Homo sapiens: one gene and its partner. The protein of the gene in region 1 interacts with the protein of each later gene in a pairwise test. Each region holds a gene or a part of one and is shown in the gene's direction. Other genes may lie near its edges.

What was found.
Region 2: the proteins of CTNNBL1 (region 1) and PRDM4 interact in binary tests that used the Homo sapiens proteins (3 or more experiments, as listed by UniProt).

Annotation. Positions count from the first base shown.
Region 1 is NC_000020.11:37,864,779-37,872,068, forward strand, and holds part of CTNNBL1 (beta-catenin-like protein 1), read left to right. Parts: intron 1-7,146; coding exon 7,147-7,235; 3' UTR 7,236-7,290. UniProt on the Homo sapiens protein: Component of the PRP19-CDC5L complex that forms an integral part of the spliceosome and is required for activating pre-mRNA splicing.
Region 2 is NC_000012.12:107,732,299-107,737,355, reverse strand, and holds the end of PRDM4 (PR domain zinc finger protein 4), read left to right. Parts: intron 1-408; exon of another isoform or gene 409-801; intron 802-2,833; coding exon 2,834-3,146; 3' UTR 3,147-4,485; downstream 4,486-5,057. UniProt on the Homo sapiens protein: May function as a transcription factor involved in cell differentiation.

The DNA of each region.
Region 1 (7,290 bases):
AGGAGTCAGTTACTGCTGACTGGGGTGCGTGCTGAGGTGGTGCTGTAGGCTTCTTCTATTCCAGAAATCCAGGACCATGGTAGGTAGAGTAGTCACTTACCGAGCTCCTACCTCCTCTGGGTCAGGCCTTTGGGGTACAGTGTCATTACCTCTGGTCCTCACAACAGGCCTAGAAAGTGGGGTAACAAGGAAACTGAGACTCACTGAGCTTAGTGGGGGTACCTGGGTCTCTGGTGATGTAAACTGGATCCAGACTCAGAAGGAGCTATGCACAGCGGTAAGGAATGTGCCAACTGCTGATTGGCCCATATGCTCCTATGGGCTTTTAGGAGAGAAGAAAAATGCAGGGCACTCACCTTTAGAGAGCACCAATTTGACATCACAGGGTGCTAGGCAGGCTTCTAAGATAAGTGAGACACTCAGGAGACCCTGTCCCCAACAGGCATACGTCCCTCACAAGTGAGGTGACTGACCATAGCGCAAAGCAGAATGGAGCCAGTGCTGGGATGCAGAGGTACAAGGGGAATGAAGACGGCACAGTTAACTCACAGTTAATCCGGCTGGACATGAAAAGGAGCCCAAAGATCCAGGGAAGCTGTACGGAAGGCATGGCTTCTTTTTTATTTTTTATTATTGTAGTAATAATTTATCGTTTTGACTATTACTACCATCACTACCATCTATCCACAGGCCTTTTTTTCATCTTGCAAAACTGGAATTGCCCGTTCCTCCCTCCCCCCAGCCCCTGGCAGCCACTATTCTGCATTCTGTCTCTGTGGCTGCCTGCATGGGAAGGGTTTCCGCAGGCAGCTACGCATGGGCATTGTTGAGCAGTCATCACCTTGGCTGTGGCGTAGGAGCTGTGACCCGAGAATGCTTCGAAATACAAATATTTGTGCCAAGGGTTGCAGTGGAAGCCACTGGCCAGTCTTATCGATGTTTTAGTCTCCTGGTGAAAGTTGTTGGAGGACCACACAGATGCCCAGGAGCAGCCATGGCTACTGCACAGTGGCTGGTTTGCAGAGAAAATCTTAGAGGATTACTGACTCAAAACTCTCTCACTGCTGGGCGAAAAGAATGAGCCAGAAACTTAAATGCTTTTAGAATTTGGCCCATGGCCCTTTGATTTGCGAGTATTCTTTATGGTTTAAAATCTCCTCCTAGTAGCTCATAAACATGTATTTCCATATTGATTTGGGGCTCTTGGTAACCCAATTTGTGTGATTTTAAAGCTGCAGAGGCTGATAGGATTTATCTTTGGATGACATGTTGGCATGTGCGTGGCTTGCGCCTGGTCATGGATACGGTGTCCCACAGGGTATTTGGAGGCAGGAAAGGATCATGGAGAGAGGCCTGTATGTTAGCCCTGTAGCCAGCGGCCTTGACAAGGCTCAGAGGCATCTTAAGGACACCTCAAGAGCTTTTCAGCAAAGATGTCACATTTGCCTTAGGATTGCTGCCCCCGGGCCTCACACCCAGTTCACCCAAGAGGGCTCTCGGGAAGCGCTGCCCGGGGTAGTGTGGTGGTGGTATGCAGGGGTCGGGGGGAACCACTCTTGGAGAACCAACTGTGCTAAGACCATGGAGCCTGCAGTGAGTTGCCCAGGTTCACAAGCAAGCTCTGTCGCTTTCTAGTGTCTGACCTCAGGCAGCTCTTCCCCTCTCCAAGCCATAGCTCCTGCATCTGTAAGATGGGGAGAACCTGTCTCAGAAGGCTGCTGTGAGAATGAGGTGAAGTGCTGTATGTACAGTGCTCGCATGGTGGCTGGCACCTAGAAGAAAGTGCCTGTTACATGTTAGCTGTCTTTATTGTTATAATTAGTGTCCAAGCTCACCCAGGAACAGAGATGCTCAGACCAACATAAATTCTGGATCTCCATGTAACTCTGGGCAAGTTAGTAGGTAACATATTTAAGTCTTGGTTTCCTCCTCTGTAAAAAACACAAAGAAAAAAACACCTAAAATAAATATTGCCTCTCTCAGGAAGCCTCCAAAGTTAAAATGCAGTTGGGTGCCTGGGACCAAGTTACATACTCAGTAAATGGAAGTTCCTTCCTTCCTTGACCTAATCCTTTCGCCTGGAGTTAGCAGCAGCTTGGACTGAGATGCCACCAGGAAAAGCAGGGACCAGCACACAGGCTCGACTTCCCCGGGGCCTTGTGGGGGTGGGTGGTTGTCAGTGGGTGCTTTTCCAACTGTGTAAAACATCCATGGGACTCTGAGAACATGACCATTGGCATTGTAAGCAAGAGCAAGGGTCTTTCTCTGTAAGTGGGTTTCATTTGAATGGCATCCCTGATGAAATGAGAACCTACTGCCTAGCAAAATATTCTACTTCTGGAGAAGCGCAACTTTCAACCTTCCAAGTTCATTGTTGTTGTCAAGGAATCTCTGTTAGACCTGAAGGATTTTCCTTTCTCAGTTTCTATTTTGTGGTTATATGTACATCTTCAAGGGTTTTCAATGTGAAAATATTGGGCATTCCTCCTCTCTCCTCCCTCTTCCTCCTGCATTTTTAAAAAGGTGAACATGTAAGGCTTAAGGTTCATGGATCTGAACCAGGCTTGTGAATACTCATCCAGGTCTCCGCCCTGGAAGACGACTTTTCCCCATCCACCAGCCCCAGTGCCCCCTCCCTCTCCCTCTCAACATAAACAGAACAGCTTGTATTCCATGTCTGAATAGTAAACCTGCTGTCTAAAGTTTGCTTTAATATTTATGCGTTCAGCACTGCTGCCTGTTTCTGAGTTCCATCAAAGCCTTTATTATAAGAGCATTTGAAAATGTGGGGGAAGTAGAGAAAGGAGTTGACGTGTATGCCGTCTTTCTCACTCTCCACTGACTTAGCCTCTTCCCTCTCTCCCCTCATCCTTTTCTCCCTCTCCCCTCATCCTGCAGTCTCTTTTCCTCTTACATACACATGCACACACGCACACACGCACACACACATGCAGCAGAGAGAACTCTTTCCCAAGACCTCTGGGAGGACTCTGTTCAATATTTAAACTGCTGCAGCAGCTGTAATAACCAGAGGTAGCTGGCACCACCAAGATTTGCTCTAAATAGGACTCTGCCATAGAAACAAAGAATGAGCAAGGGCAAAGGGTGAGGTTGAGGTGCCTGAGGGTGCAGCTTCCCCGGGCAGTGGATGAGCACTAGGCCAGTGGATGAGTACTAGGCCGGGTCGTCGGACCTGGTTCTGGGCCTGGCTCCGTGGCCGGCTCACTGTGGGACCCTGGCCATCCACGTGCCCCCTCAGGGCTGCAATAAATTTCTGAGAACCCTTCCAACTCTGATATTTGGTAACTTGGCATAAGAGAGGGTGACCCCAGCCAGTCCACCCACATCTGTCCTGGCCACCGAGGCCACTGTACCATAAGACATTCCTGTTTTGGAATGCTCACAGAGCAGAGTTTTTTTTCCCAAAGACTAGGGGCCAGGCAGGGTAGCCTGTTGCTTAGGTAACAGGATGCTGCTGTGAGGACCGGCCCCCTCCCAGTGGTTTTTTAGGGGCCTTTTTTTTTTTTACTATCCACACATTTCAAGGTTTGAATTCCGGCTCCTCTACATCCTAGACTTGGGCGGGTTGCTTCAGTTCTCTGATAGCCTCTGTTTCCCCCTGGGTAAGTAGGGATGGTGTTCTTTACCTTGTGAGATTGATGCAAAGGTTACATGTGAGACAACCTAGAAAATGCAGGCACATAGCAGTGCACAGCACATGTTAGTTCCACTCCGCTCTGTATGGGACAGGCCCTCTTCCAGGGGACACTAAGCCATTCACTGCCTGTGGGCCAGTCGGATATCCCCTTTCCAGAGAATGGGTGATGTGACTGTTTGCTTCTTAGCACAGTTGGAGTGACACAGGAGACTTGCGCATAGGATGGGTGCTCTGTGTACCGTCGGCATATGTAAGCGAGGCCTCGGCACAGGTGATTCGGCAAAGGGATTGATGCAGGTGTGGGTTCCCTCTGCTTCGTACATCCCTAGAAAGAACTCAGGGAAGCCGGCTTTACTGTTGGAAAATCACTGCCCCACAGCATCGGACTGTTTCTCCACTTCCCTCTCTCCTGGGTCTGAGAAGACATTAGGAGAGCAAAGTGTTAGCTCAATCCATTAAGACTCCTGCTTCCAGACCATGCCTCCGGGGATATTAGATGCCATAATGGTCATTTCTCTCTCTCCTGGGGCAGCAACTATATCATTCACATGTGAGTAAGAGATACCACTTACACACAGCCCCAGAGCCTTCTGCCAAAGCTCAGTTCCTGTCTCCATCACCCTGGCCCTCTCTCTAAGGGGCCTTAATAGGAGGCATCACAACCACTTGCTGTTGGAGGTGATGGATGGGCCTAACAGAAGAGGATTTCTGGGGGTAGACACACAGCTGGCACATGCCTGAATCCCACATCCCATTTTCTGGCACACGACCAAAGTAATAAAGAGGAACGGGGCAAAATAAAGAGGTAGCAGGAGCAAAATTACTTCCCCAGCATTGGCAGGGGTGGGGCTGACAGGGGAGGGGTGAGAGGTCACATGCTTTGTCTCCCCAGTCTTTGTCTGGTTTGGATCAGCAGGTGTTTTATTATGCAAAAGCCTCTTACTAGAGAGTTCTCTCCATTTTCTTTCTCAAGCCAGGCCCCAGTAAGGGACCAGGGGGCAGAAGTGCAGGCAGCCATCCTAGTCACCCACTGCAGGAGATCCTTCAGCACGACACTCTGCTGGGGGGCCCTCGGCCAGGCTTAGCTGGGAGGAAGGCGAAAGCCCCTGCCTTCATGCAGCTCTCTGTCTAGGGAGAGAGGGGCTGGGTGGAGGATGGTCTAGCAGTCAGGCCCACATGTGCTGGAGGCAGTGGCCTGGGGCCGGGTGTGGGAGTGAGAGGTGACCAGGCAGGCTTTCACAGAGAAGACATCTCAGGAGGGGACCCGGAGGAGGTGTGGGACTTCCCCAGTGCCATTACTGGCCTGAGCAAAGGAGGCTGAGGGAGGGAACTAATGTTCCCTGGACGTTTGTTATTTGAACATTTTCAGAGGGGACCACCCAAGGGCACAGTTGTGAGTCAGAGCTAGGATTTGATTGCCTTTTCCTCTCTGGCTGTGGGCAGGGGACAGTCAGAGGGCAGTGAAGGGTTGGACCACCCCATCCTCCCCCTTCCCCTCCCACCAGATCCCCTACACTTGCTCTAGGAGCCACCGCAGGAAGTCCAGAGTCACCAAATCATCCCTCGCCATCTCCTAAAAAAAAAAAAAAACAGGGTGACCATGTTATTTTGGGGGACGAGGACACTAAAAAAAAAGAAATGGCGTCTTAAGGATCACTGTGCTGGGACAACAGGGGAGACAAGAACACAAGCCTGCCCACCATGACACTCTCTGATGGCATCCTCTGCTGATCTGTTGCCAGAACTGTGCCCAGAGCCTCACCCTCCTCAGGAATATTTCCTTTCTCTTCCTGGTCTCACTGAAACCTGGTGCTCCTACACCCCTCCTGCCACTGGAGACATAGGAGGGGTCTTCCATGCTCCAGTACTTCTAGACTATTCTCTCTCCCTCCCTTCCCCGAATACACCCAGCTGTCGAAGTTTGTGTCGGGGGACTGCACCCCCCGACAGCCCCTCCCTGTTGTTGGCACCAGCACCTGTGCCCCCAGTCCTTGCGGGGATTCTGGGCTCACTGTCAGCCTCCCCAATGCTCTTGTCATATTTCTTGGTGATTGCAACATCCATATCTCTTTCTCACACCCCATTTCCGGTCTATCTGTAAATCCTATTGGAGCCACCCTCAGAAAACATCAAGAAGCTGAAGACGTCGCCTCACCTCCACCGCTACCTGCCCAATCCAGGCCACTGTCACGTCGCATCTCCTTTCCCTGCCTTTGCTTCCCCCATGGTGTCCCCCACACAGCATTGAGAGGGATCTGGCAAAAGTCAAATCACGTCATTCCTTTCTGCTCAGGACCCACCGCACAGAAAGGCCACAGCCCTTACCGTGGTGCACAGACCCACACCATCTGGGTATGGCCCCTCCCGTGGCTCCAGGCTGTGGCCACGCTGACCTCTTCGCTGACCCTCAGATAAACCAAAGAAGTGCCTCCCCTTAGATCCTCTGCCCTGGCTGCCCTGCCACTCGCTCCTAGACCTTTCCACACTCATCTCCTTCTGATCTTTAAGCAGATACTCCCTGCTGACAGCCACCTGTGTATTTTGTTCACTTTTTGGTTTGTGACCCTCACTAGAAAGTAGGCTCCACACAAGCAGAAATTTGCATCTGTTTCTATCACTGCTTTATTCCCATTCCCAAAAAAAGGTTCTCAAACTGGAGCATACATCAGCATCACCTGGAGACTCAATAAATCCCAGATCACTGGGCCCCACCCGTTTCCTGTTAAGTGGGTCTAGGGTGGTCCCAAGAATTTGTGTTTCTAGTAAGTTTCCATGCAGTGCTGCTGCTGCTGCTGCTGCTCGGGTCCACACTCAGAACCACTCACCCAGAGCAGTGCCTGCCCAGCTGGTGTCTGTCTTAGTCTGTTCGTGCTGCTGTAACAAAATCCCTGAGACTGGGTAATTTATGAAGAACAGAAATGTACTTCCTCACAATTCTGGAGGCGGGGGGTCCAAGAGCACTGCCCCAACCTTTGGTGTCTGCTGAGGGCCGTCCTATTGCATCCTCACATTGCAGAAGGGGGAAGGGCAAAGGGTCTTGAGAGTTCCCTGCAGTCCTTTTGCAAGGGTCTAATCCCCCTAGATTAGACCTAATCTAGACCTAATCTAATCTTATAATTAGATGGTAAGAACCTAATCACCCCATAAAGGCCTTCGATGCGTTGAGGATGAGGTTTCAGCATGAGTTTTGGAGGGGACACAAACATTCAGACCTTAGTAGCATCCACGCCATGTGTGTTGAGTGAATAAATACATGAGGGCGGAAGTGAAGGGTGTGGCTAGGAGGGGAATCCAAGCATGGAAAGGTAAGTTGGGACCTTTCCACTGAGGCCTCAAAGGCAAGACCCCAAGGAATTTGGCTACAGTGGGGGCATTAGGGCGACTTGCACCTCTGTGGGAGCTGGGGTTCTGGGAAAGGTATGAAGCGACGCAGCCACGGTGGATGCCATGCCTGGGATCCACTCCTGACTCTATCTTTGTCCCCCTAGAGTATGCAGAGAACATCGGGGACGGCCGGAGCCCGGAGTTCCGGGAGAACGAGCAAAAGCGCATCCTGGGCTTGCTGGAGAACTTCTAGAGGCACCTTGGCCCTGCGCATCATGGACTCTCTCAGCTTCCCTCCCAGGATCAGT
Region 2 (5,057 bases), on another chromosome or scaffold:
AGGCTTTAGGCTTCCTATGGAGATCGTTGGTAAAATTTTCAGATGCTTGTATTTTTACTTTGGGGCATTTCAAAGTGGATATAGTAGTATTAGCAGTCTTTTTATTTATCTACTTAAAAAAAACAGCTACAGCCCTAATGCCAAATGCAAGAGGAGTTCCCCCCCTAGTGTCCCCCGAGAGTGGAAGGGTGGTGACAGAACCTGGCTTTGCCCTTCCTGTAAGAAAGAGGAAGTGAGCAGAAGAACAGTGATGTTTACTCCCCAGGTCATCTTGTCTCATGGCTTTAGATACCGTCATATGATTTATGTCTCCACCCTCATACACCTCACCATCACTCAGCGGCTCTGATGCTGGATGTTCGCTAGGCAACTTAAATCTTATGTGTCCAAAACTCAACCCAGTATTACCCCATGAATTTGATTTCCTCCAGTGCTGAGCAGCTCATTAAATGGCACCACCATTATTCACCTCAATGGTCAAGCCAAACACCTTGAAGTAATTCTCAACTCAGTTTTTCCTTCCTTCCTTCATTCAACTAACACCTTGTCCAGACCACCAGCTTTTCTTCTATGGATGGCTTCAGTAGCCTCCCAGTTGATCTCCCTGCCACTACTTGCTGTTTCTCCTCATCTACTCCGCAACACAGATGAACACACATACACACAGTTTTCTGTCCGCAGTGCCAGAGCAATCCATTTCAAATATAAGTCAGATTGTGCCTGTCTCCACTCATACATCTCTGGTGGCTTTCCATCGTATTTGTGTTAAAAGCTTTTTACAGCAGTCAGAAGGCCCTTTATGATGTAATAGTACTTGGCTACCTCTCCCTTCACCTTTTCTTACTTTTCATATTCTGCTTTGGCCACTCTGACCCTCCCCTTGCTACTCCTTGAGCATACTAAGCACATCCAGTCTCAGGGCCTCTGCCTTAGAAACTTCTCCCTCCAGATGCCTGCATGTCTTCTTCCCTCCATTCAGGTTTCTGCTCAAATGTTATCTCCTCAGGAGGGCCTTCCTTGACTATCTTATCTAAAATAGGACCCCTTCACTTTTACCTGGCTTCGTGTGTTTTCGTAGTCTTTATTGCTATATGATACCACGTTACACATTTGTTTATGCTATAATCTGTCCACTTAGAATGTAAGCTTCATGAAAGCAGGGACTTAGTTTACCCACATCCTATAGCCCTAGCATCTAGAACAGTGCCTGGCATAATTAGACACAGTAAATATGTGTTGAATAAACATCTAAAAACCATCAGAGTAGAAGATGAAAAGTCAGACTTTTGGTAGGGGTTTTGTTGTGGCCTTGGGCAAGTTCCTTAGTAGTTTTTATGCACATGATGTTTCCCATCTGCAGAATTAAGAGGTTGGATTAGATTGGTGGTTTTAAAACTGCTCCAGGGAATTCTAAGGGTTCTTCAGTGCCATCTGTTGCTAGAAGAGGATGAGAGAAATGCTAAGGAAGCCAGGCTTCAGAACGCCCGACTGCACCCTCTCACTCCTTCCAGGATTTTATTAATAACCTGCTTTAACTGTTTCATATTGGGCTTTCATAAAGACATGGGGTTCAGCTACTCAAAAAAAAAAAAAAAGCTAAAAAATTCCTGGTCTGTGTGATCTCTAAGGTTCTTTTCAGCTCTGAAATGTCTAGGCCAGGGTTACTCAAACCTTGACATTATTGACATTTTGACCGGGTTAATTTTTTGTTGTGGGGCTGCCCTGTGCATTGTAGAATGGTTAGCAGCATCCTTGGCCTTTTCCTACTAGATACTAATTATACCACCCCTCCCCAGTATAACAATCAGAAAGGACTCCAGACATTGCCAAATGTCCCCATAGAGGCAGTCGCCCCTACTTGAGAACCACTAGTCTAAGAAAAGGACAGAAAAATGGTAATTCCATAAAAGTGGCATCCAGGGAATACAAATAACGGTGTAATGAGATACCATTATGTACTGGCTAATTGGCAGACATTTTCAAATTTGAGTCTTCCAGTTGAGAATATGGGACAACCAGAACCGTCAATGATGGATGTGTATATTGAAACAACTACATTGGAAAACCGTTTGTCATTATCTTGTAAAGTTGAAGATGTGCATATCCTTTGATTTAGCTATATAGTTCTTGGGTATGTGCCCTAGAGAAACATGTATTGCAGAGCACCATACAAGTATAAAAATGTTCAAATGCCAGGTACAGTGGCATGCACCTGTAGTCCCAGGTACTTGGGAGGCTGAGGCGGACAGATCACTTGAGCCCAGGAGTTCAAGGCTGTAGTGCATGATGATCACACCTGTGAATAGCCATTGCACTCCAGTCTGGGCAACATGGTGGGACCCTGTCTCTAAAAAATAATAATAAAAATTTAAAAAAATTTAAAAACGTTCTAGCACTTTTGCTTGTGATAATAAAAAACTGGAAACCACCAAAACATTCATTAGCTAGAGACAAATCCAGTACCATAGATAAGTTGTGGTGTATTTGTATATTTGTAAATAGTATACAGCAGTGGAAGGGAACAAACAACTGATACAGCAGCTTGAATGAATTTTATGAGCATCATACTGAGAGAATGCAGCAAGACAAAAGAAATACATATAGAATTTACATAGAATTTGAGAATTTACATAGTATTCTAAAACAGGAAAAATGAGCCTACACTGTTTTAAACTATACATGTTTTATGAGTCTTCTGTATATCACCTATGCAAAAGCCTGATTCAGAAGGATAGAGCTGCTCTGACAAAGGCCTGCGGCTATGAAGAATAAGTGTTGCCTCAGTTGTTATTTGTAACCCCAAATCAAATGTTTTTTCTTGTGTTCCTCTTAGAGAACGCCAGATCAAGTGTCCCAAGTGTGATAAGCTGTTCTTGAGAACAAATCACTTAAAGAAGCATCTCAATTCTCATGAAGGAAAACGGGATTATGTCTGTGAAAAATGTACAAAGGCTTATCTAACCAAATACCATCTCACCCGCCACCTGAAAACCTGCAAAGGGCCCACCTCCAGTTCGTCAGCACCAGAGGAGGAAGAAGAGGATGACTCAGAAGAGGAAGATCTAGCAGACTCTGTGGGGACAGAAGACTGTAGGATTAACAGTGCTGTGTATTCAGCGGATGAGTCTCTTTCTGCACATAAATAAAAGGAAAAGAAACAAGCAATTTTGGATGAAAATGCAAATGGAAAAATACACATAACCAGTTATCTACTATAATGGTTTTTATATAAAATGGTTCCTGATTTATTTTCAGCCAGTAATCAAAACAGACTGGGAATGAATAAAGCACTTACAGAAGAGTATCCTAATGAAAACACTTTAAAACAGATTGGGAAAACTGAGCATGTGTCCTGTTTTAAGTGGTGGACTGGGAGGGAAGTGTCAACTTCTGAGGTCTTTATTTACATGATAATCTGGGAGATGCATTTATGCCTGAATCAAAGCTGCCTTCTGCTCAAACAAATCAGATTTATTTCACATTCTTCCATTATTCCATTTTCCTGCTGGTCCTGTGACTTGGTAACATTCTAAACGGTCCTTGCCCCATAGCCATCCTGATTGCTGATAGTGTTTTATGCAGACTCTTGTGACTTATACTCACCACAGAATGGATTGGGACACAGCAGCATAAGTGTGCTACTTGGCAGCTAGTAAGTTTAAAGCAGGACCTGCCTTAACTGCTCCTGGCCACTTGGAAGTTTAGGGTAGATCTTGTTTTCCAAAGTTTCGGCAGGTGCCTGGAGGGCAAATAAAAAAGCAGCAGTCAGTCAGTAGTCAGTGATGGAGAGAACAAGAGGAGAGATGCCTGGCCTCTGCCCAAGAAATTAGCTTTGATGGAAGCCTGAGCAAGTCACCTGGTTATTGTAACGTGGAGATCTTTGTAGGTTTAGACATGGCTCCCTGTCTCCAGTAAACATCCAGCCATTCAGACAAAGGGGGCCTGGAGATACAGAGAGCCCAAATAATGCCTGCTGGATTGTCTCCTGATGAGTACATGTGGACTCACCTGAGGAAGGGAAGGAAGGGAATAATCTTTTATGTTTCATTTACCTTATGAAAAGTGTTAAAACATTGCCAACTCAAAATAACATTATTTAATGCATGTGCAAAGTTAGGTCTTCCCAGTTGTCTCAGTGCTGAGGAACCTCATCAGAGAAGCATGGAAGATGCCAAAGGATTTTTGGAAGGTAAAGAAGGCTGAATAGTGACCACATGGGCCTGTTTTCAGGGTCCCAGCTTAGTTAAGTCACCCATGCACCTGGTCATTGTGTCTCCCATGCACATCCAGCGTTTCTCAGAAGCAGACCCACCCTTAAGTTGACAGGATTGATGGAACATGCTCTCCTGCTCAAGGCACAACCTCTGGGCTGGAGTAGAGGACTCTGGTGGGAAGGTTTTGCTGCTAATGTATTTATGGAATGAATGTATTTCATTCAAATCTGTATTCCTCTAGGAAGGATTAAAATTAAACTTTTTTAAAATACAGGATTCCTCTGGTAGTCTCATTTCATGGAGGAAGGAGATGAGTGAGTCTTCTAGGGAAAGTCAAGTACAATTTGAATCTTTCTGAGGTTAGAAGAAGAGAGCATTTCTAGAGTATTTTAGCTTTTGAGATCATATTCTTATTGTTTCTGCTGTTAGTACTTAAGACAAACTGCTTCCTGTGCTTCCAACCCTCTTCTGCCCTGTTCCTGCCTAAGGTATGCCTTTACTCTGTTACCTCCTTGGAGAAATGTGGCAGGTCTGCAGTGGAGGGTTGGGGGATGTGTTGCGGATGGTTAGGGTTGGCTGCTGACACTGGGTCGTGACGCCTCCCTCAGGGCAGCTCTGGTTCCTAGGGCAGCTTCAAACTCAGCATTTTGCCAAAGGCATCCAGCTGGCTGGTTCCCCCATACCCAGGAAACCACTGGTACTGGGACTCTAAGCTCCCTTTCTTCCTTTATCTCAGTAGCACACACTGGGTTCACTTCCTTCATTCCCAAGACTGAAATGATGCCCAAGATAGTTACGCCTAGTGTCAGAGGAACACAAACAGCAGAGGAAGCTTGGAAACCT